Regions from separate parts of the Homo sapiens genome. Here region 1 is linked to region 2. The links come from fine-mapping of genetic effects on gene expression. A gene starts in region 2. The other region holds a variant in brackets. All regions are shown on one strand. Distances are from middle to middle.

Region 1 (12,271 bases), 24 kb before region 2:
GGCTGGAGGAGAGCTACTCCTCTGGTCTGGTCCTTTTGCTGGTCCTCCTTTTCCGGAGGAGGAAACTGAGGCTCAAAAAGGTTGAGCACTGTTCCCAACTGAAAGCTAGAAGCAGAGCCCGGACAAGGGCCTATACTCCTGGCTCGGTCTTCTGTGCCCAGTCAGCACTTGCCTCTGCCCTGGTCTCAGACCTGCTGCTCCTGCAGGGTCTGCCTTATTCAGTGTCTCTCTGGCTGGTAACATCCATTCCCATTCTGGGAGTCAGGGCTGGACACGCCTGGGGCTCAGGGCTCTGGCTTTTGCTCCAGCGAGAGTTTTGCATGCCACTTTTAGCGGGGCAAAAATTGTCTCATGCTCTGCCTTCTCAGTCCAGAGCTGCTTTGGCCTCATCTTGACCTGTGGGATCTCAGCCCCTGATTGCTGCTTTCTGCTCTTTTTCAGGGCTGCTACCTGAGGCCTAGCAGGCACTTTAGAGGCCATCTAGTTCAGAGGTTGCAAATTGGCAAATACTTTAGGCTCAAACCTTCAGAAGTTTACCAGGCTCTCCTGGGTGACCTGGGCCTGGGGTCTGGGTGTGGCCTGTGCCACATGTGCGTCTTCCTCTCTCTCCAGGAGCTGTATGCGGCCGGGGAGAACCGCCTGGGAACAGACGAGTCCAAGTTCAATGCGGTTCTGTGCTCCCGGAGCCGGGCCCACCTGGTAGCAGGTAAGGCAGGCTGGGGTCCCTCAGAGGCCAGTTAGATGAGGGCAGTCAGGGGATTGTGGGGAAACAAAGCTATGGGAACACTTGGTCGTTCCTCCCTGCGTGGGGCTTTCGCCTCCTCAAAAGAGCCCCCTGGTGGGAATTTAAAAGACACTGTCAGAGGGTTTCCTGAGTTCTGGCAAACATCCAGTTCTGGAGGTTCTACCGGTGTAGAAACCTGGTGTCTTTGTACGTGGGAATGTGGAACGTCAGAGTTGGGAGGGTCCTTCGGGAGCACCCAATCCAGTGTTTTCCAAAGCCTGGCATAAGAAACAGTCATAACAATAAAACTGGGTGCCATTCATTTACTCATTCATTCAACAGATGTAAATCGCGCTCCCGCATGGGTCAGTCTGTCAGGTGGTGGAGCAGGTGTGGGGCCACGGTGGGGGGCAGGGCACTGCAGAGTGTGTTCCATGGGCTGCACTTTCTCATTTGGGGAGACAGACAGTAAACAACAATGAAATAAAATCTGTATCAGATGGGAAATCCTGTAGAGGAAAATCAAGCTGGAAACAGGTAGGGAGTGATGGTAGGGTCCACCGGGAGGTGCTTGGGCCAGTCCCCACTGAGGTCGTGACATTTGATTTAAAAACCTAAAGGGAGATGCAGGGGCAGAGGCCTGCCTGGGGCTCCCAGCACGACTGAGAACAGTGAAGGGGGACCATGTGGAGCAGGTGGAGTGAGCAAGAGGAGTGGGAGGTGAGGGCAGAGAGGGGAGAGGGCCCTGCTGATGACTTCCCGGAGCTGGGTATTTATCCTGAGCAAAAGAGGAAGCCAGTGGAGGGCCCTGAGCAGAGGAGGCTGTGCAGAATCCCTGGCTGTGGTGCCGAGAATGGAGTGAAGGGTGCAAGGCCAAGCAGCGAAGCCTGTCGGGAGGCTGCTGCAGGGACCCGGGGAGGAATGGTGGTAATAGGGGCTTGTGGTGAGGAGGTGTCAGGTTCCGGCCATGTTTGCTGATGAATTGGACACGTGACGTGTGGGAGAGAGAGGGTTCGAGGATTATACAGGGTTTCTTTAGGCCAAGCAGTGGGAGAATGGCCCTCAACTGAGACAGGGGGACTGTAGGTGGAGCTGGCTTTAGGTGCCTGTAGGGTGGAGCTGCAGGGAGGCTGCTGGGTTGCTGAGTGTGGAGGTCAGGAGAGGTCTGGCCTGGTTGTGGAAGGTAAGGGAGCTATGGGTAGTTGAAGTTATCTGAGGCTCTGGGACTGCAGGAGGTCCCCTCAGGAGGGAGACTGTGGGGAGCCCACCGGTGTGAGGAGACTAAGAAGGAGCAGCTAGGGAGGGAGGAGGACGCAGAGGAAGGGGGTCCTGGAGGCCAGTGTGAGGTGGCAGGCAAGGACTGAGGATGGTGACCACACGGAGCAACTGGTGGGCTGTGGCCAGGGCTGCTCCAGTGGGCAGTGAGGGTGAAAACCCAGCGACCGCTCTGTGCTGCACACAGAGACAGGCGCTGTGGCTCTCCCCATTCGCAGCTGTGAAAGCAGGCACAGGGTGGTAGAGGAAGTAGGGGTGCACAGCTAGTAACAGCTGAGCTGGGATTTGAACCCAGACCACCCGACCCCAGAGCACACTTTTTAACCTCTGCACTATCCTGTAATGGAGCCTGAGTGAAAGCATTTTCATCTTAATCATTATTTCTTTTAATGAGTACAGAACATGTAAGTAGTGCATCAAGCCCATGGCTTCACAAACATTATTACTTAGGAGAAAAGAGTAGCTGATTGGAAGAAGATATTAATTGAGACAGATACACACAGAGCAGAAATCACAACTTTAAAATGCAAATGGTAGCTGAGACTCAGGCTGGGGAAGGAGAGTTTTATGTCCTGGGTCAGAACTGGAGTCAGGACCAAGGTCTCCATCATGCCACCTGTCTCTCTAGGAGCCAGCCATCCACTCCTGTGGGTGCTTAGCGTGTCCTAGGTCGAGGTGAGCAGCAAGAAGCCAGGCTGGCTGGGGCAGGCTGGGCCTCAGCTCACAGGCAGGCTGAGGAAGACAGATGGATGCATGAATAAAGCCAAGGAATGGCAGAGACTGGAGGTGTGGAGGATTTGAGAAGAGGGGACACTGTCTTGGAGTACATGGGAGTGGGCCCTGGAGGGGTATTAAGGTGCGATTTGGTTAAGCAGATTGGCAGTCCTGAGAAAGGGACCACACAGGGAGGGACATCAGGTGGTGCATGTAACTTGTGACGAAGACTCTGACTTCCTTGAGCGCTAGCAGGCCTGGGGACGTGCAGGGTGTGGGAGCAGAGTGGCAGGTGGGAGATTTTGGGGCAGAGGCCACCTCATGTGAGTCCTCTGTTAGTCTGCTCATGCTGCCATGACAAAATACCACAGACTGGGTGGCTTAAGCAGCAGATACTCATTTTGTTACAGTTTTGAAGGCCAGATATCCAAGAGTGGGGTGCCGGTTTCTCCCGTGGCCTCTTCGTGACAATCACTGTGCTCACATGGTCTTTCCTCTGCATGTGCACATCCCTGGGATCTCTGTGTGTGTCCTAATCTTCTCTTCTTCTAAGGAGACCAGGCGAATTGGATTAGGGTACACCCTAGCAGCATGTTTTAACTTAATTACCTCTTTAAAGATCTTATCTCCAAACACGGTTATATTCTGAAGTCCTGGGAGTTGGGACTTCCACATATGAACTTTGGGGAGACACATTTCAGTTCATAATATAAGCCTCTGTCATCCCCATAGTTTTCAATGAGTACCAGAGAATGACAGGCCGGGACATTGAGAAGAGCATCTGCCGGGAGATGTCCGGGGACCTGGAGGAGGGCATGCTGGCCGTGGGTAAGTGTCTCAGGTTTGCCGCCCACCTGCCAGGGGCTAACGTGTATCGTGAGTGTTCAGGCTGCTCGCCTGTCCTCCAGCTGATGGGTGACACCGTGAAGGGACCACAGGATCCAAGATCGCTCAGCCCAGAGTGTCCAGATGCTGGGAAGTCATGCTGCTTCCCGGTTCCCTGTGCAGTTGAACCCCTAGCTGTCCTGGAGGTGTCTTGTGTGTGTTTGCGGTGCAGCTCTGGAGTAGGGAACTGCAGTGTGGGTATTAGTGGGAGGGCATCCAACTGCGCTCCCGGAGGAGTATGACTCATATCCTGCCACGTTTCCTCTAAAAATACATCCCTGCAGGCAGTTGTCAGATGTTTGTGATGGAAACACGTGGAAAGATTTTTACTTGCAGCAGCGAAACAGGCCCATGCTGAGGAAAGCTGGCTTGGCTCCAGGATGGTGGTGTGCCTCTTACATTGCCCATGTCCTCTAGCAGGGCCCTCCCACTGTGCAGAGTTGGGTCCCTGCCCTGAGGCCCTCACAACCCCTCTTTCTACTCACTTGGGAAAATCAGTCTGCCCCTTTTTTCATTATGCTTTTTTTGGAGCTTTCTGGATGGGAGAGATGGAAAATCCTCATTTCCCTGCCTGTCCCCCATAGTAGGTCTCATGGCCTGGGAAGCCTAGGGAGATGCACATTCCACTCAGCCACGGTTTCTCCATGACGGTCATGGCCTCTCCAGTCTGCCCCTCCTGCCTGAGCAGCAGCACAGTTCCTCATCACCATCCACATTGCTTCCCTGTGTAGCTCCTAGCCCCACTAAGACCCCCGCCCCTCTGACTCTTGGTCCTTTCACCGCAGTGGTTGCCAGGAAAGAGGGTGGGTTGGTTTCCAGGCTTTGCGTGTTTCTGTTCCAAATAGCTGGAGCCAAGATCATGGGATAGTTGAGCCTGGAACAGAAGGAGGAGGAGAAAAGATGGATGCAGTGATGGGTTTGACATCTGGGCCTCTAAGAGGACACTTGTAGACTCCATGCCCTGCTTGGGCTGAGAATTTTCTGCAGATCTGGTTATGCCGAGTTTCTCTCTTCTAGTGAAATGTCTCAAGAATACCCCAGCCTTCTTTGCGGAGAGGCTCAACAAGGCCATGAGGGTATGTAACTTCCATGTGCAGGTTGCGATGGAACCTTAGCCTCGCCTGTGCCTGGGACCAAGGGCTGAGGGCAGAAGGCCTGGGGAGAGCTAAATCTCAGCTGAGAGTTCCGAGGACCTGGGTAGGGAGGGGACTGGAGGGCCCAGGGCAGGTGGGAAGGTGAGGAGGCCTGGTGCTCATGCTCTTGGGTGGACTCTCTTTAGGGGGCAGGAACAAAGGACCGGACCCTGATTCGCATCATGGTGTCTCGCAGCGAGACCGACCTCCTGGACATCAGATCAGAGTATAAGCGGATGTACGGCAAGTCGCTGTACCACGACATCTCGGTACGGGCCTGCTGCAGGCCAACTGGGCTCCCTTTTGGCATCTCAGTCACCTGTGGAACCTCCCTCCTTGGAGTGGCCATATGCTTGGCCTCTGTGCTGTGTGTGGGCATCTTGATTATGGACCTCGGACTTGTTCATCCCCTTGCCCTTAAACAGATTATAAATTTCTGAGGGCAGGTGGATCATGACCTTGCTGTCGCCCCCACCTTGCATCCCCCAGCAGCATCAGAGAACACTCGGGACCTCCCCAACCTTGACCGTGACCTTCAGCGTTCCGATCACCGTGTGATTCCTTGATCTGTCAGTGAGAACTCATGTCCCAAAGGCTCTGTGGAGCTCTGCTGTCACTCCCTGACAAAGCACTTCCTGCACTCAGCTTTATGGCGTAGGCCACATAGTAAGGCCGTTCAGAGCGAGGGCCCTGGGGGTCACGCCACTTGGAGTCCAGCTTTTCTACTTGCTAACTGTGTGACCTTGAATGGCTCCCTTAAATCTCCCTGAACCCCAGCTCCATTGTCTTTAAGATGAGAAAATAATCGTTCCTTCCTGGGAATGTTGTGAGTATTGAGTGAGGCAGTGCAGGTCAAGTGTCTATTAAACACTAGCCACAGTTGTATCGCTGTGTGGCAGAGCCAGTCTGACAAAATACATTCTCAGCTGTGTGGTCTAACGCTCAAATTCTGAACTCACATGAGCCTTGCAATTGCACCATGGGGACCACGTCCTCCCACCTTAGACTCAGTAGCATTTGATGATGGTGGGCATGTCATCACAGGAAACTCACTGTGTTTCCTTGGCTGTATGAATGAAGCTGTTGTTAGAGAATTAGTGATTCTAGGCTGGGCACAGTGGCTCACGCCTGTAATCCCAGCACTTTGGGAGGCTGAGGCAGGTGGATCATTTGAGGTCAGGAGTTCGAGACCAGCCTGGCCAACAAGGTAAAACCCTGTCTCTACTAAAAATACAAAATTAGCTGGGCTTGCCTGTAATCCCAGCTAATTAGGTAGGCTGCGGCAGGAGAATTGCTTGAACCCGGGAGACAGAGGTTGCAGTGAGCTGGGATCACGCCATTCCACTTCAGTCTTGGTGACAGAGTGAGACTTCGTCTCAAAAAAAAAAAGAGAGTTAATAATTCATTACAGAGTATCTCCTGCATGCCAGCAAGCTATGGACATCTGGAAGAAGCCACATGCCTTGCCCTCAAGTTGCTTAGGGTGGAAGGAAATGATTAGAAATGAGCCAAGCCGAGCCTGCACTCTTAGAGTAAGTGTAGTGGCCTCAGACAGAGGAGAGATCCCTGGGACCTGGGCAGTCTGAGCCTTCCACTGGACAGTCATGTGTGAGGAGATTGCATTTCCTGAGCAGGACACTGTGTTGCGTTACATTGGTAACCCCAATTTAAGGCAGCATAAATGCACTGGGAAAACAGCAATATTGGTTAGCCCTGGGAAGTGGTTTTTAGGATGATTATAATTTTTTTTTGTGGGTATTCATTTGATGTGGATAGCTGGGGTGAGTGCTGCTTTCCGTCTTCTGATGGGGGCCTGGAGAAGGCTGAACTGCATTTTTTAAGGTCTGTGACGCCTGCTGCAGGACCTGCAGTGGGAGAAAATTCCCCAGGGTGGGGCTTTCTCCCTATAAGGGTGCTCAGGGCTGAATATCAGGACCCAGAAGGCTGAAAGTGACTGTCCCTCCCTTAACGGATGTCTTCCTTGTTTCTGTGGCCAGGGAGATACTTCAGGGGATTACCGGAAGATTCTGCTGAAGATCTGTGGTGGCAATGACTGAACAGTGACTGGTGGCTCACTTCTGCCCACCTGCCGGCAACACCAGTGCCAGGAAAAGGCCAAAAGAATGTCTGTTTCTAACAAATCCACAAATAGCCCCGAGATTCACCGTCCTAGAGCTTAGGCCTGTCTTCCACCCCTCCTGACCCGTATAGTGTGCCACAGGACCTGGGTCGGTCTAGAACTCTCTCAGGATGCCTTTTCTACCCCATCCCTCACAGCCTCTTGCTGCTAAAATAGATGTTTCATTTTTCTGACTCATGCAATCATTCCCCTTTGCCTGTGGCTAAGACTTGGCTTCATTTCGTCATGTAATTGTATATTTTTATTTGGAGGCATATTTTCTTTTCTTACAGTCATTGCCAGACAGAGGCATACAAGTCTGTTTGCTGCATACACATTTCTGGTGAGGGCGACTGGGTGG[G/T]TGAAGCACCGTGTCCTCGCTGAGGAGAGAAAGGGAGGCGTGCCTGAGAAGGTAGCCTGTGCATCTGGTGAGTGTGTCACGAGCTTTGTTACTGCCAAACTCACTCCTTTTTAGAAAAAACAAAAAAAAAGGGCCAGAAAGTCATTCCTTCCATCTTCCTTGCAGAAACCACGAGAACAAAGCCAGTTCCCTGTCAGTGACAGGGCTTCTTGTAATTTGTGGTATGTGCCTTAAACCTGAATGTCTGTAGCCAAAACTTGTTTCCACATTAAGAGTCAGCCAGCTCTGGAATGGTCTGGAAATGTCTTCCTGGTACCAACTTGTTTTCTTCTGCTTGATTCTGCCCTGTGGCTCAGAGGTCTGGCCTTATCAGCCAGTGAAAGTTCATGTAACCTTACGTAGAGATTTGTGTGCAGGAAACCCTGAGCATACACTAGTTTGCAGGGACTCGTAAGGACATGGGAAGGGAGGTTCCCGAAATCCAGGCAGGAGGCCCAGACACCTGAAAGGCAAAGGGATCTTGGTTGGTTGCAGGTGCAGTGAAGTCCACTGAAGGTGTGGTGCGAAGAATGCAGTCCTTCACCCAGGTCCCAGGAGGGAAGAAGGGTGTGTGCTAATTCCTGGTGCCCCTCGGCGGGGGCCAGAGAGAAGGATGGGGACAACCCAGAGAGTCACAAGACCAGTGCCTCCCCTCAGGGTGCCTCCAGGCTGAAAGGGGCTCCTGGCTCTGGTCTCTGGGGACCCTGTGCCCGTTGGTTGGTGGTGTGAGGGAAGAGAATCCATAAGAGAGTTTCTGAGAATTATGGTGTCATGTCCAGAAGCTAGAGCTTACCTTGCATCAGGGGTCTCCACCCACTCCTTTTCCAACCTCCTGCGTTGAGGTTTAGAAAAGAGAGAATCGACTAGGCACTATGGCTCACGCCTGTAATCCAAGGACTTTGGGAAGCTGAGGTGAGAGGATCACTTGAGCTCAGGAGTTCAAGACTAGCCTAGCCAACAGCGAGACCCCTGTCTCTACTAAAAAATTTGGCCAGGCGTGGTGGCTCACGGCTGTAATCCCAGCACTTTGGGAGGTGAGGCGGGCAGATCACCTGAGGTCAGGAGTTCGAGACCCAGCCTGGCCAACATGGTGAAACCCCATCTCTACTAAAAATACAAAAATTAGCCAGGCATGGTGGCACATTCCTGTAATCCCAGCTACACAGGATGCTGAGGCAGGAGAATCACTTGAACCCAGGAGGCAGAGGTTGTAGTGAGCTGAGATCACACCATTGCACTTCAACCTGGGTGGACAGAGTGAGACTCTGTCTCAAAAAAAAAAAAAAATTTACCTGGCATTGTAGTGCATTCCCTATAGTCGGCTACTCTGGAGGCTGAGGCAGGAAGATCCTTAGAGCCCAAGAAATTGAGGCCGTAGTAAGCTGTGATTACACCACTGCACTCCAGCCTGGACAACAGAGCGAGACCTTGTCTCAAATGAGAAAAAAACAAAAAGAAATGGGAGAATCCAGAGAGACTAGGCTAGATCAAGCCTGCTGGGTCCTGGCAGGAGCCCCAGGGAGTAGCTCATCTGCAGACATTTGCTTGAGGACTACCCCCTAAACATAAAGGAAGAATGACATCCGAAGGGTGTGGAGCAGCCATGAGCTGAGAACTAGCCTGGTCTACCTGAGATTGATGGCAGGTCCTGGTCAACACGTCAGCTCTGCGTCAGAGTCCATGCCTCAAGCCCAAGCTGAAGCCCCATCCCTGCTGCTCTCCCAAGAACTCCTCTGCTAGGGCAGGCCCCTTGCCCTTGGGTGCCAGGTGGGACCTGCCTGATGGGATGGGGTGCTTGGCATATACAACTTGCCATGAACTCAAGGTGACCCTGGGGGCCTCCTGAATTGTGATGGGGCCTAGAACCAATGTGCTCTGATGTGACCATATTCTGTGACATTACCTTGCCCTGTTTACTCCAAAGTTCCCAGCCTGGTGCCCAGCAGGCAATATTGCACCTACAGACACATTTACTTTGGTTTCCAAAGTGTTTTTAGACATTTGAATTTGTTGCCAACATTTAAACATTGAGAGATTTCATATTTTTAAAAATCTGGAATTCTGGCTTCTCTTGAAAACTCAGAAATTCTGGCACTATGGGGCTTGCATTCCTGCATGGCTGGAGCTGAGTTGCAGCTGCCCCTTTAGGCCTGTACTCCTTATTTGCTATAGGCTCCGTCTTGTATTACACTAAGCCCATGTCACCCATTTGGCTCCTGCAGGCCTTTGGGTTTGAGACCCTGGTCTACACACTTGGAGACCACCTGTTGTAAAGTACATGGATGTGCTTTGGTCAAGGAATAGACCAAGGTGGATATCCAGGCCAGAGTGACTCAGCGAGTTTAGGTCACAGGCGTATACTCCACTTGTTATATAACCTGCTTGTGTAAGTTCATACTTGGCTCAAAGCCACTATTGTTTGGAAAAGGTATAACTGCCCTGCTGACGCTGTACAGATGTTCTTGGGCTCGGATGGGCATGGCTCCACGTGGTGTGCACTAGCACCCAGAGAGAGTGAAGCTATTGACCCCTGTAAGGGAGAGTGACCATCTGGCAGATAGATAGAGGGGAGCCAGGACATGGCTCAGCTTGTGCCCAGAGGGAGAGTTAAGCCGCTGACCCTGTAGCCAGGGAGTGCACCTGCAAGCATGGGGGTGGCAGGAGCCACAGAGCTGGCTGCTGAGAGGAGCTGCAGATCTGGAGAAGACAGCCTAGGTAAAGGTGGACAGTGTGAGAGCTGCTGATGAGATAGCTGCTGAATAAAACTACATTTTACCTGCCTATGGCCCGCCAGGTTTTCTTTCAGCTATCGCCCATCCACCCAGTCCCCTCGAACCTCAGCATGGGCTGGAACCTGACCCTGGGCATGACATTTGGCATAGTTGTGGACCTGACACCTGTGTTTGTCCTAGTCCTGTTTCTCCCTGCCTTCCTGTTCCTCTCGCTGCCCTCATGGTCACTCCCAAGAGATCCAACCCATGTTAAGTATGGGCTGGAGGACTGCATGAATGCCTCATGATCTTCCCAGAGGCAAAGGCACCTACTGCCTTCCAAGGTCAGTGGGAGGTTGGGATCAACACTGTTTATTATGCTTAGGACAAAAAAGATAGGGAGAAAGATGTGCAACCTTACAGGTCATCTTTCTGGGATAGAACACAATGGGTCTTCTCCTGCCTCCTGGATATGTTAGTCAAGGCCAGTCCATGCTACACATCTAGTCTGACTTCTAAAATAGAAGCACCAGATGAATTCAGCCCTGAGAGAATTTTCAGCAGCTGTGGGGGCGCTGGAGGAAACACTATTAAATAGTTTTGCACCTGAGACAGATAGCCTCACTCGCCTCACCCTAGTCCTGGTGGCATTTGTCTCAGGTGCAAAATTTAAGAAAGAAACCTTGGAGTGCTCACCCTGTGGCTGGGTAGATGGTCCTAAAGTGGTGGTTTTCAAGCCTGAGTGTGTATCAGGATCATCAGGGGAGCTTGCTAAAGAGCAGTTCCTGCGGTCAGACCCTCATGCATTTTGAGCAGGTGTGGGGACTGGGAAACTGCATCTGTAACCTGCTGTAATCTAACGCTTATCTAAATACTACTGTGCTCACACAGAGAACACCGCAAAAGTAGAGGTGTTCCTCCAGAGGGCAGGTGAGCAGATGGCACAGTCTGCTTGGAATTCAGTCAGGTGATGAGAGATGAGATGAGGCACTCCTAGCTTTGGGAAGAGGGAGCTGAAAGATGAACCTTTGCAGGTGCCCACGGTCAAAGTGGTGGTTTAATGCCATGCCATGCCCATTTTCTGTTGGCCTTGGCAGGGAGTTACAGCCCTACCTTAGGACCTGGCTCCTTATTTCTGCTGTAGGCTCTTTCCTGCCCTGGCCGAGATGGAGTGGAATGAGACCTAGAAACATCAAGCTAAATACATGTCCTCAGAAAGATAAAGGTTTACATTTTCACCCCCATCAAATCTGAAAGCTCTCTGCCTGTGTTTTTCTAAGGGATAGGGACATCATTACTCAGTCCACAACCTGGACTCATGTAGGGTCCCCTGTCAGTAAAGGAGTCAGTCAAGCCCACCAGGTATACCAAGGACTCTTACCCTCAGCCCCTACTCCTTGGAAAGCTGCCCCTTGGCCTAATATTGGTGTTTAGCTTGAGCCTGACTCCTTCTCAACACTAAGAGCTGATGAAGTCCTGAAGCAGAAAGAGCTCTGACCTGAGAGTCAAACATCCTTATTCTGATCTCAGCTCAGCCCCTGATTTGTTGTGTGACCCTGGATATGTCACTTCCTGTCTTTTTGACTTTTTAAAATGAAGGGTAGACTAGAGGAGAGCTTCTAAAACTTTAATGTGGTCAACGAAATGGAATAGGAAATTCCACAAGTCTGTCCTTCCACAAAAGCAGCAAATAAGGTGGCAAAAACTCAAATTTATGGGAACTCTGGAAACGAATTGAAAGTTTACAGCAATCAGGTGAATACCTAAGAATAAAAGCTGGATTTAGTAAGAGAGCTTTGTTGTGTTTTAGCTTACCCTGGCCCCATCCCCCACTCCCCAGCATGGCAGCAGCATCAAAAACAATATCCCTCATTCCCTGTATAGGTTCCTGTCACTGGAGGTAGCAGATTAGACCTTATTTTCAAGAAGTATGTTGATTTTGATTTGATTTGTTGCTCCCTGAAGGACTGGTTCAAATGCCTTTCTTTTATTTTGCCTAATTTGGAGCTCTCCTAAAGTGAAGATGGCAGCCTGGAAAGACGTTTCAAGGTCAGTGTATTAGTGGCTCATGCCTAGGGGAAGGAATAACATTTGGAGCAAACAGGAGACAAATTGAAAAGCTTCAGGAGGAAAGGCTAGGAAATAAGATTCTTTGGGTGAGAATAAGGACTTTAAAGAGATTCCACATATTCCTGGGAATCTGAAAGACCATACACATGCCTAGGGCTGGGCATGTGCTTAAAAAGACTTGAGAGGGCCCTATGCTGTCACCTCTGCCTGACCTTCAGGCTCCGTGCAAGCAGGAAGTGA
Region 2 (12,271 bases):
TCTAGAAGTGGGGCAGGTCTTGAGGTAGGACAGAGCTGATGATGGATGTGTAACTCTGAGAGGCTGAGTGATTTCCCCAAGGTCACACCATCTGCAAATGCCTGGACCTCAGGCACCCTGACCTCCTGTTCTCATCTCAGCAAGGTGGGGACCCCCTGCCCTGTGATTTTCTGATTCCAACTCTATCTAGCTCTCAGCACTTCCACTCAGAGATGAGAACAGGACCAGAGACAAAATGTCCTTCCACTCTGAGCATCTTTTGTGGAGAACAATCTGTTTTCCAAATTATCCTTTTCATTATTTCCCTCCACTGAACTTAGAAAATACTCTTCAAAAGATAATGGTGTTATTGCTGAATCTGGGGAGGGAGGAGGACATTATAATGGCCCTTTGGTTATTTTTTTAATGCAAGTATTTTAAAGACCTATACTGAAATATTTACAGATGAAAGGCTGTGCTGTCTTGGATTTACTTCCAAAGTAAATAATCCAGGCCTCAGTGGGGATGGTGGAGAGGCATGCGTGGATGTTTAGAGCAAACAGGATGGGCTGAGAGTTGCTGATTGTTGAAGCTGGGTGATGAGCAAATGGGGGTGCATTCAGCGATTCTGTCTACTGTTGTGTGCACGATTTGAAATGTTCCATAACAAAAGCTGGCTGTCTGACGAGGTTGTCAGCAGAAAGCAGCAGCCATTGTGGGCTGCAGGCATTCATGTAAAATATTCAGAGAGAGAGAGGCCCCTGGGGGCTATGCTCCATCCTGGCCCCACATCCTGAGAAGGCCCTTGAGAGGCAGGAGCAGGTCTAGAGGAGGCTATGGGAAGGGACTCCTCTTTTTTTTTTTTTTTTTTAGACAGGGTCTCACTCTGTCACCCAGGCTGAAGTGCAGTGGCACAATCATGGCTCACTGCAACCTCTTCTTCCCGGGTTCAAGCAATTCTCCCACCTCAGCCTCCAGAGTAGCTGGGACTACAGGCACACACTACCATGCCTGGCTACGTTTTGTATTTTTTGTAGAGATAGGATTTCACTACGTTGCCCAGGCTAAGCTCAAACCCCTGGGCTTAAGTGATCCGCCTGTCTCGGCCTCCCAAAGTGCTGGGATTATAGGAGTGAACAACCGCACCCAGTCTGGGACTCCAAATTTTAACTCAATTCTCTCAGCTGAAACTGGGCTGCTCAGCTTGGAGAGGAAAAGCTCTGAGGGGGCCTCTGTTGTCACCCACAGAGTGGCCGTCCTAGGGGAGGGCCTGTTGTCATGAGTCTGTGGATACACATACCCCCCTGCTGGCTCTGTCCAGAGGCCTTTGGCCAAGCCTTTTCTCTGAGGCTCACCTGCCCTCTCCCAGACCCTAGCCACTCTCCCGTGTAAGGCTCAGGCCAGGGGGATGCAGTGTGACCCTGCCAGCCAAATGGGAGTCTGGCTGCTTTGGAAGTCAGAACAACCAGAGCCTGCTCCCCTCCACTGGCCTAAACCACCCTGTTCTCTACGTGTCTGTGATGAGGTCTAACTTGGCTCCAAAACCCCTCCAGGGAAAAGGCTGGGCTGAGGTCGCTCCCAACATGGCTCAGCACTAATCCTTCACATCTGGACAAAACTGTGCTTTGTGCACCCTGGAGCAACTGTCCGTGAGCTCATCGGGGCCTCCACAGAGTGCATCTGAGAGAGCAAGCTTGGAGCAGGGCCTGACATTGTACTGCCAGCATCCTCACCACAGCGCTGACTTGAACGCATCATGGTAGAAAACATGCTGGAGACCCCTTTTCTCAGCCTGGTTCAGCCACTAATGATTGTGGGATTGTGAGAAAGTTTCTTCTGCTCCCTGAGCCTCTGCTGCCTCTTACATAAAATGGGGTAGGGTAGGCCTGAGGCCCTGACTCCCCCGTGTAGCGCATCCTTAATTCTTCTGTCTTTTGGAGGCTGCAGAGAGGCCTCAAGAATTAGCTAGACGAGCTGGGCTCGGTGGTTCACACCTGTAATCCCAGAGCTTTAGGAGGCTGAGGCAAGAGGATCGCTTGAAGCCAGAAGTTTGAGGTCACTCTGGGCAACATAGTGAGACTCTGTCTCTACAAAAATAAATAAATAAATAAATAAATAAATAAATAAAATAAAAATTAAAAAAAAATTAGCCAGGATTGGTGGTATATACTTGTAGTCTCAGGTATTTGGAAAGCTGAGGCGGGAGAATCGCTTGAGCCCAGGAGTTTGAGACTACAGTCAGCTACGATTGCACCACTGCACTGCAGCCAGGGTGACAGTGAAAGACTGTGTCTTGTAAGAAAATAAATAAATGAATAAAAAATAGTAGACACGCACATGCACCACAGGGCTGTCAGTGGCTCAGACAAGGGGAGTGGAAAAGACTGAAGGATTATGATGATTAACCCTGAGCAGCCAAGGCTGTGGCTCCTCAGGGCTCCCTTCCTTCCTTTCCTCCCGCTCTCCCAGGCCCTGCCAGTTGGGAAATGGACCTCCTTGGATGCTGCGTTGTTTTCTCTGGCCCGGCTCCTGCTAGGGGCCTGATGTGCACCCTGGATGGTGGCCATGGGTGGGGCATCCTGTGCTGGTGAGAACACGCTGCTGTGGAGCCCGGAGGCCCCAGAGGAGGGCTCGGCTGGGCTGGCTGCCCCAGTTAAAGAGACGTGGCCCCTGGGTCCCATCCTCTGAGGCGGAAGTACGGGTGCTTCTACTTACAGGCCTTATGGGGAGACCTTTTGTATCTGGACCCAAACAGTAAGAAAGGGCCACAACACAGATGATTTCTGCATGCTGGGGGTTGAGAAATGTTTTCTCAGTGGCATCTGAAAGGTGCCGCTGTATCTTCTGAATTGTCAAAGTCACACTCTGCTTTGAAAAGCAACCCTGGCCACTTGGGGGTTAATTATATTTGACCACATTCAACATAATAGAATAATAAATTTACCACATCCAATATTTGTATTAAAATGTATGATTCACTCAAAACCATCCACGGGTTTTGATCATTTTTGAAAGCAGCAGAAAACTATTCTTCAAGTGATTTTATAAAAAACTCCAAAATATGGGCCGGGCGTGGTGGCTCATGGTCTAAAAAGCCATCAGGGATAAAGGTTTCTCTGAGTGCTGCTAAAAGAAACCAAGACTTGGGCCCAGCGCGGTGGCTCATGCCTGTAATCCCAGCACTTTGGGAGGCCGGGGCAGGCTGATCACTTGATGTCAGGAGTTTGAGACCAGCCTAGCCAACATGGTGAAACTCCCCCGCAGCCCCCGTCTCTACTAAAAAATGCAAAAATTAGCTGGGTGTGGTGGTGCACACCTGTAATCCCAGCTACTTGGGAGACTGAGGCACGAGAATTGCTTGAACCCAGGAGGCAGAGGTTGTGATGAGCTGAGATCGCACCACTGCACTCCAGCCTGGATGACAAAACAAGACTCTGTCTCAAAAAAAAAAAAAAAAAAAAAAGGCCGGGCGCAGTGGCTCACACCTGTAATCCCAGCACTTTGGGAGGCCGAGGCGGGCAAATCACAAGGTCAGGAGATCGAGACCATCCTGGCTAACACAGTGAAACCTCATGTCTACTAAAAATACAAAAAAAATTTAGCCGGGCATGGTTGCAGCCGTCCGTAGTCCCAGCTGCTTGGGAGGCTGAGGCAGGAGAATGGTGTGAACCCGGGAGGCGGAGCTTGCAGTGAGCGGAGATCGCACCACTGCACTCCAGCCTGGGAGACAGAGCGAGACTCCATCTCAAATAAATAAATAAATAAATAAACAAACAAACAAACCAAGGTTGGAAGTTGGACGTGCTAGAGATAGCTCTCAATTTATAGAAAATATAAGGGGTGGAGGTATTTAAATGACATAAAAGGGATGCAATTAGCAAAATCTAAATGTGGAAAACTTTACAGGACAAACTTAGTTTCTTCAACAAAAACAAAAAATTAAGTAAAAAAAGGGGAGAGAAGACTTACATATTTAAAGAGATCTAACAGACATATTGACCAAATGCAGTGTATGTAACCTTATTTGGATCAAACAAATGAATTGCAAAAAGATATGACACAATCAATCAAGGACATTTGAACAGTGATTGAATATTTAATGATATTCAATCACACACAGTTTTTGGAGTATGATCATAGCATTGCAGTTATGTTTATTAAGAGTGCTTATCTCTTAGAGGTACACAAAGAAATATTTATAGATGAAAATACATGATGCCAGGCCAGGCATTGTGGCTCACACCTGTAATCCCAGCACTTTGGGAGGCCAAGGCAGGTGGATCACTTGAGCCCAGGAGTTCGAGACCAGCCTGGCCAACATGGTGAAACCCTATCTCTACTAAAAATACCAAAATTAGTCAGGTGTGGTGGTGCGTGCCTGTAGTCCCAGCTACTCAGGAGGCTGAGGCAGGAGAATCAGTTGAACCCGGGAGACGGAGGTTGCAGTGAGCTGAGATTGTGCCACTGCATTCTAGCATGGGTGACAGAATGAAATCCTGTCTCAAAAAAAAAAAAAAAAGAAAGAAAGAAAGAAAGAAAATATACAATGCCTGGATTTCCTTTAAAATAATCCAGGGAGGGGAGAGAGGGTGGAGGCTATAGATGAGATAAAACTGCCCATGAACTGATACTTCTTGAAGCAGCGTTGATAAGTATATTACATGATTCTTTCACATACTATTACTTTGTATTTTTTTGTATCCAAAAGTTTTCATAATCAAAAGTTAAGATATATCATCTAAAATCTGAAAGATTATGCACAAAAATATATGAAATCAGTGTGAAATTACACTAATACATGAATACTTTCCTCCTTTCCTTCTTCTTTTTTTTTTTTTTTTGAAACTGAGTCTTGCTCTGTCACCCAGGCTGGATTGCGGTGGCTTGATCTCGGCTCACTGCAACCTCCGCCTCCCAGGTTCAAGTGATTCTCCTGCCTCAGCCTGCCGAGTAGCTGGGACTACAGGCATGTGCCACCACGCCCGATTAATTTTTTGTATTTTTAATAGAGACAGCATTTCACCATGTTAGCGAGGCTGGTCTTGATCTCCTGAGCTTGTGATCCGCCCGCCTGAGGGGTAGGTGAGGGGAAGAAAGCGGACAGTGAAAAGCAAGGAACCCAGCTAATGGAGTACCCAGACAGCCTCTCTCCTCCGCACAGCTCTCCACCTCCACCCAGTCCCCCATCTCCACCCAACATAGCTCAGTTTCCCAGAGAAGCTCCCTGGAAACCGGGAGGCTGACTTCTTCACTGACTGCAGATCCACCTGAGGCCACCTGGCAGGTGAATCGGTGGCCTTTCTCCTGGGCCCGACTGCCTGGTTCCTTAAGGCTGTGCTGGGCTAGCCTGGGTCACTCATCCTTTGGAGTGTGGCTTCTTATGCAATGTCCTATAAAGCCAGGCCTGAGCCTCCACAGGCCCTCTGAGATGGAGCTGGCCTCCGGGGCTGCCCCACCCAGCAGCTGTGACCTCCCACTCCAGATCCTGGCTCCTTCTCTCTTGCCAGCTCTACTCCGGGCATCGAGCTTCCCTCTCTCTCCTTTTTGGTCTCTCTCAAATCTTTCTCTTTTCTTCAATATCCTCTCTCCCTCCACCCCTTGCCATTTTAATCACTTTTTCTCTTTCCTTCTTCTCTTTTGTCTCTCAAACTCCTTTTTCTTTCTATCTTAGTTCATATCTGTTCAGGGGAAGCCTCTTTCTGTCTCAGCCTCTCCTTTTTCCTTTTCACTGTGTATTCTTCCCTATCTCCTTTATCTCTCCGTTGCTCTACTTCTCTGCCTTTTTCTGAGTCTGTTTCCTCTCAATCTTTCTCTCCATCCCTCCCTCCCTGCATCTGCCTCTCTGTCCATCTCGCTGCTGTGTCCAGCTCTCTCTCCGTCTCTCTCGCTCATTCCTTCCTCGCCATCTGCGGGTCTCCCCGGCTCCAGGTCCCCTGCCGCGCCCTGCGCCCCACTCACCGGCCAAAGAGCCCGCGGCGCGGAGCAGGGCCAGTCCGGTCAGCGCGCAGAGCAGGGGCCGCATGGTGCCGGCCTGGCCGAGCGCAGCGCCGCGTCTGCCCGCAGCCGCCCTTCCCGGATCGCACCCGGCCGGCCCGAGAGGAAATGCACTCAGTTCGAGCCAAAATTCCTGGGCGGCTCCGGACTTTCTGGCTCGAGAGAACCCGCCCCCTCCAGAGGCCCCTCGGCACCCCGTGGGCAGCGCGGAGCCCAGAGACCCCGGGAGCTGAGGCACCGACGTGCCACCTGGGCGCCTCCCGAGGAAGGGGCCGCCCCCCGAGTCCCCGCACCTCCTGGGAGCCCGGGAGGGAAGGCGGGGCGGGGGGCATTGGGTGAGGTCTTGGGCTCAAGGCGACCGAGCCTGGGGTCAGGGGTTTGTTACGAGCCAGTTTCACAGGCGGGCAGACTAAGACTCGGAGGGAAGTGTCTTCCTCGGCATCACTCTCAGCCATAGCACAGGATCTGAACCCCTGTCTCCTGGGAGTTTGGCAGCTTTTCTCTGTCTACCTACGAACAAGAAATTAATTCTAATTACATGGAACAGTGTCTGCCCCTAAGAGGGAGACCCAGAAACTCACTGCTCTGGTAAGGGAGTGATAGAAATATGAAAAGGTAATTTTAAAAAGAAAAGGTAAAATCGTAACTCTCGCAAAGATATGAAATTAGCATATACTAAAGATTTTATTCAATTCATTATTAATGAGGGGATAAGTAAGATGGTACAAGCAGCCCAAAGTTTAGAGCACAGTAGTGGAAACTTCCCCTATGGGACATGCCCATCCAACAAGTGCAACAACAAATTAAGTTTTAGTAAAAACACAAAGCAAAAAAGCTGTAGCTCTAACTTCTCTGCTGCAGAGCCCTGAGTGAGTGTCTCGTCTGGCTGTAAGTGGAACACATTCATCACCAAGCCTGGGAGAATGCCTTTGTCCATCAAGGGTCCCCGTTGGGATTACCTGGAGCTCTTGCAGATCAAGGCTGCCTCTCTGCCTTCTGTGTTCCTGGCTGTGGCTATGCAATTGTCCAAAACAGTTACCACGCTAACCAGTGATCCAGTTCTCACTCCCTCCTCCAGAGCAAGATAGTAGCCTCAGACGGAGAAATTCTGGTTCTGAGCCCGAGAATCTGAGACAGACTCAGATCTAAATCTTTTAAAAGCCTTCAAGGAGATTATGATGCCCACATGAGCTGGCTCAGAAGAAGAATTTATTTCAGGAATGCCAAAAATTTCTCACGCTTGGTGGTAGGACATTCCTTGATAGTTTCGCCAGGTGGGAAAAAAAGTTGTCAAAGAACTGCCCAACTCATAAGGATTCTTGTAGCTTAGAGCCAGTGGGCTACCTTATATTTTGAATTTAAGACTAAGAAAACACACACACACACAAAAACATATACAATACATTATTGTTGCGGTAGAGCATAAAGTAATTAAGTATACAGAGTAAAACATGAAAGTCTTTTCTGTTACGAATTCCCTCCGTCCAATGATTCAGGTCCAGTCCCCTCAACTTGGTAGGCTCTGCCTGTTCCACGTCTATGCATTCCCCATCTACCTAATGTATATTCAGACACAAATGTATATACATGAGATCAAGTCATAGATATTTTGAAGATTTGCTTTCATTCATGTTTATCTCAGTCATAACATTAAATCTTGGCTGGGTGCAGTGGCTCACGCCTGTAATCCCAGCACTTTGGTAGGCCGAGGTGGGTGGATCACCTGAGGCCAGGAGTTTGAGACCAACCTGGCCAACGTGGTGAAACTCCGTCTCTGCTAAAAATACAAAAAATTAGCAGGGCGTGGTGTTGGGCGCCTGTAGTCCCAGCTACTCAGGAGGCTGAGGCAGGAGAATCAGAACCCAGGAGGCGGAAGTGGCAGTGAGCCAAGATTGCACCACTGCACTCCAGCCTGGGCAACAGAGCAAGACTCCATCTTAAAATAAAAGAAAATAATCTTGGAGATCAGTCTATGTGGGTACAGATAAATCCACTTCATTCCTTTTAAGAGTTAAAATATCCCATGAATGGATACAAGGAGCATTATTTATCCAAACAGTCCCCTATTGACAGACATGTAGATTGCTTCCTTTTTCTCTCCAATATAAAATAAGCTTTAATAAACATTCCTTTGCATATATCTTCATGTACGTAGTACATATTCCTGTATGTACATATTTCTGAAAGGCTGGAAGAGGAATCATTGCGTCAAAGGCCTTTTACATTTTGCCAGATAGGCCAAAAACTGTTCCCCAAATTGTTACTAAGCCCACAGGAGGGGCAAGGGGTCTTCCAGCGCTGTTCCAAGGTGCACCTGAGCATGTTAGTCTAGGTAGGAATTGGGCTGCAGGGGGCGCCATTTACATAAAATACTTCTGCGCTGGGCGCGGCGGCTCACGCCTGTAATCCCAGCACTTTGGGAGGCCGAGGCGGGTGGATCACGAGGTCAGGAGATTGAGACCATCCTGGCTAACATGGTGAAACCCCGTCTCTACTAAAAACACAAAAAATTAGCCGGGCGTGGTGGCGGGCGCCTGTAGTCCCAACTACTCGGGAGGCTGAGGCAGGAGAATGGCATGAACCCGGGAGGCGGAGCTTGCCGTGAGCCGAGATTGCGCCACTGCACTCCTGCAGTGTCACCCACTGCACTGGGTGACAGAGTGAGACTCCGTCTCAAAAACAAAACAGAACAAAAAAACAAAAAAAACCCTTCTGGATTGGAGATACCTGAAGTGTAAACCTATCAGTCACCTACATTCTCCAACACTGGATATTTATTATTTAAAATTTTGACAGCTTGATGATGGAAAATGTTACCTTGTTGTTATTGTTATTTACATGCTACTTGTTATGAGTGAGGTTAAGCTTTATTTGCTTCTTCGATTACTTTTTTCTATTTTCCTCCCTTTCCTTTATATACTCTGATTATTAATGCAATGCCTGTTATATATGTTGGCAATGTCTTCTTCCAGCCTTCCATTATATTTAAGTTTCTTGGTGGTGTCTTTCATCATTCAGAAGTTTTAAATATTAGGTAGCCAAATCTCTCAATATTTTCTTTTCTTTTTTTTTTTTTTTTTTTTTCTTTTTTGAGACGGAGTCCCTCTCTTTCGCCCAGGCCGGACTGCAGTGGCGTTATCTCGGCTCACTGCAACTTCCGCCCTCCTGGGTTCACGCCATTCTCCTGCCTCAGCCTCCCGAGTAGCTGGGACTACAGGCGCCCGCCACCGCGCCCGGCTAATTTTTTGTATTTTTTGTATTTTTTGTAGAGACGGGGTTTCACCGTGTTAGCCAGGATGGTCTTAATCTCCTGACCTCGTGATCCGCCCGCCTCGGCCTCCCAATATTTTCTTTTATGGCTTATAGAGTTTACAACTTGCTTATGATTCCTCGAATCAAGGCTGTAAAGATATTTTTCTATGTTTCCTTCAAACAGTTTTAAGGTTTTCTCAAGGTCTAATGTCTAATCCATCTAGAATTTTTATGTGGTTGCAAGGAAGGAATCAAACTTAAATTTTTCCCTAAATGGGTATCTAAATGTCCTAATGCTCTTTATTGCCTAGTCCATCCTTTTACCACTACTTTGAACATAAAGTAGTTGGCTAGCTACTCATTTCCGAGGGGAGTTCTGGGAAAATCTCTCTACATCATGTCTGTCACAAGGTCAAGGAAACAAAAATGCAAAACAGACATATAATTTCAATAAATACTGAAACCATATTTGATGAAATTAAACAGGCCTCCCTAACTTAAAAACAGTAATAACAACAAACTTAGGATAAAAATAAAGGAAATAATGGGACATTTCCTTAACAAGATAACTACCTTTAATTTTTATATTTATAGTTTTTCAAATTAAAAAAATAATAAAAATAGAGACGAGGGGTCTTGCTGTGTTGCCCAGGCTGGTCTTGAGCACCTGGGCTCAAGTAATCCTCCCGCCTCAGCTTCCCAAAGTGCTGGGATTACAGGAATGAGCCACCATGCCCCGCCAACTACTTTTATCTTAAATAGTTCATCTGTACATAACAGAGAAAGGAGAAATGTATTCTTTATTAAATCAGGAATGAGGTAAAGATGCCATTATTGGCCAGGCATGGTGGCTCATGCCTATAATCCCAGCACTTTGGGAGGCCAAGGTGGGAGGATCACTTGAGCCCAGGAGTTTGAAACCAACCTTGGGAACACAGCATGATCCCATCTCTACTAAAAATTAAAAAAAACACACACACATTAGCGGGGCGTTGTGGCACACACCTATTACTGGGGAGGCTGAAGCAGGAAGATCGCTTAAGCCTAGTAGTTTGAGGCTGCAGTGAGCTATAATCACACCACTGCACCCCAGCCTGGGTGACAGAGTGAGACACTGTTCTAAAAAATAAATAAATAATTTAAAAACTTAAAATTAAATTAAAAATTTAAAAAATAAAAAAAGATGCCACTATCAACAAGTGTTTGGCTGGGTGCAGTGGCTCATGCCTGTTAATCCCAGCACTTTGGGAGGCAGAGGCAGGTGGATCACTTGAGGTCAGGAGTTCGAGACCAGCCTGGCCAACATGGAGAAACCCTGTCTCCACTAAAAATACAAAAATTAGCCAGGCGTGGTAGCACACGCCTATAATCCCAGCTACTAGGGAGGCTCAGGCAGGAGAATTGCTTGAACCCAGGGGGCGGAGGTTTCAGTGAGCCGAGATCGTGCCACTGCACTCCAGCCTGGGCGACAGAGTGAGAATTTGTCTCAAAAAAAAAAAAAAAATTAAGATAAGTGTTTGGAAATCAATTTATTTCTGTATACCAACAGAAACTGGCCCAAACATGTAAAGGGAAACTCCTGGGCAAAATGATAGTATGGAGCCAGTGGACCCAGTTGACAAACCTCCTCCTTCCAATATTCTTGAAAGTGACCAGTGAAATTAAAGATAGGGGAGACCGGCATCAGTGGCAGGAACTAGAGAAATATGCCAACCATATACCAGGCCTCAAAGCAAGGTGGGTAGCCAGCTGGATCTAGTCATACCTCTTATTATTTATTATTATTCTATTATTTGCTAAACTTCTCTGAACCTGGTATTGTGCTAAGGCTGTATATGCATTACCCTATTTAATCCTTGCATCAGTAAACCTATCAAGTAGATATCCTTATCCCCATTTAAAAAAATAAGATCTATTAAGTATATCTGATTCAAGAGTAGAGGGTGGCAGATCCCAGTTTGGAAGCTAGGTGGATCCGATTCCAAAATTCATGGTCCTCTGCATGATCAGGCCTCTTGACTCTGAAGTCCCAGGAAAGGCACTAAATAGAGAATCTGAAGAGTGGAGGTGAGAAAGGGATGAATGGGATATGGGGGGCGCAGAGTGGCAAGCCCTGTGCAGTTAGGGGAGAACGCTCATAACCACCTGCATGAATGAAGTGCCCTAATGTGCAGACGTTTCTCTTTCACTTAATGCTCCCATGACCCTGGCAGATACCGTCACAATCTGCGTGGACTGTGAGGCTACCTGCCAGGGTCATGGGAGCATACAGAATGTAAGGCTTGGAGAAGTTAGGAGGTGGGCCCAGGGCACACAGAGACTAGTTAGGGATTTGCCTCCCAGGCACCTGTACTGCCTCCACAGGCAATGCTACAGGATGTGCTCAGGTCCTCCCAGCCTGGCTGGGCCGGGGCACAAGTGGTGGGAAATCTGGCAGGGGCTTGCTCTCCCAATCCATACCCAAAGGCAAAGGGCCAAAGGAAACAGGAAATAGGGGCTGGTCATCTCTTTGGGGAGAGAGATGGGGTGAGAGGACAGCCCAATTAAAAGAGCGTCAGTGGCTGGGAGGGCCTGAGCTGTACAAAGCCTCCTTGTCTTCTTCCTTTGGCACAAGAGAAGATTTCCAGAGGTACCAGAAAGACCCACGCCGGGAGAGCTCTCAGTGAGCACTGGGCAAACCTAGCCCATTCTGCACAGATGAAGAGGGGCTACTAACCCAAGGCACAGAAGTTATAGCCAGAGAAAGTGAGCCAGTGAAGTGTGAATGTGGATGTCTCTCGGGGGAAGGAAAAGGAGGGGGCGACTTGATGGGTTGAGATTTGTTTTTTTGAAGTTGGAAGTAGTGGCTCACTCCTGTAATCCTAGCACTTTAGGAGGCTGAGGCAGGAGGGTGGCTTGAGTTCAGGAGTTCAAGACCAGCCTGGACAACATAGCCATACCCTGTCTCTACAAAAAAAATTTAAAAATTAGCCGGGTGTGGTGGCACACACTTGTAGTCCCAGCTATTCAGGGGGCTGATGTGGAAGGATGGCAGGAGCTTGGGAAG

Which allele goes with the higher level. Positions count from the first base shown, and alleles are read on the strand shown. Sizes are in standard deviations (SD) of each study's normalised expression.
For the expression in whole blood of the gene that starts at base 6,034 in region 2, allele G in region 1 goes with a lower level than allele T (small effect, 0.34 SD a copy in GTEx).

What was found. PIP is the estimated chance that this variant, and not a neighbour inherited with it, causes the effect.
Region 1: its variant is fine-mapped to the expression of PLAC9 in whole blood (GTEx, PIP 0.94).

Annotation. Positions count from the first base shown.
Region 1 is chr10:80,150,370-80,162,640 of GRCh38, reverse strand. It overlaps ANXA11 (annexin A11), which reads left to right. Exons shown (of 16, transcript NM_145868.2): 12 at 613-706; 13 at 3,446-3,541; 14 at 4,616-4,674; 15 at 4,878-5,000; 16 at 6,729-11,752. The coding sequence ends at 6,788. Among named protein-coding and RNA genes, the nearest start is that of PLAC9, 24 kb to the right of the region's middle. RefSeq lists enhancers at 3,621-4,162, 3,260-4,459. The variant G/T (reference allele first, on the strand shown) is at 7,212.
Region 2 is chr10:80,126,493-80,138,763 of GRCh38, reverse strand. It overlaps PLAC9 (placenta associated 9), which reads right to left and starts at 6,034. Exons shown (of 4, transcript NM_001012973.3): 1 at 5,938-6,034. The coding sequence starts at 6,001.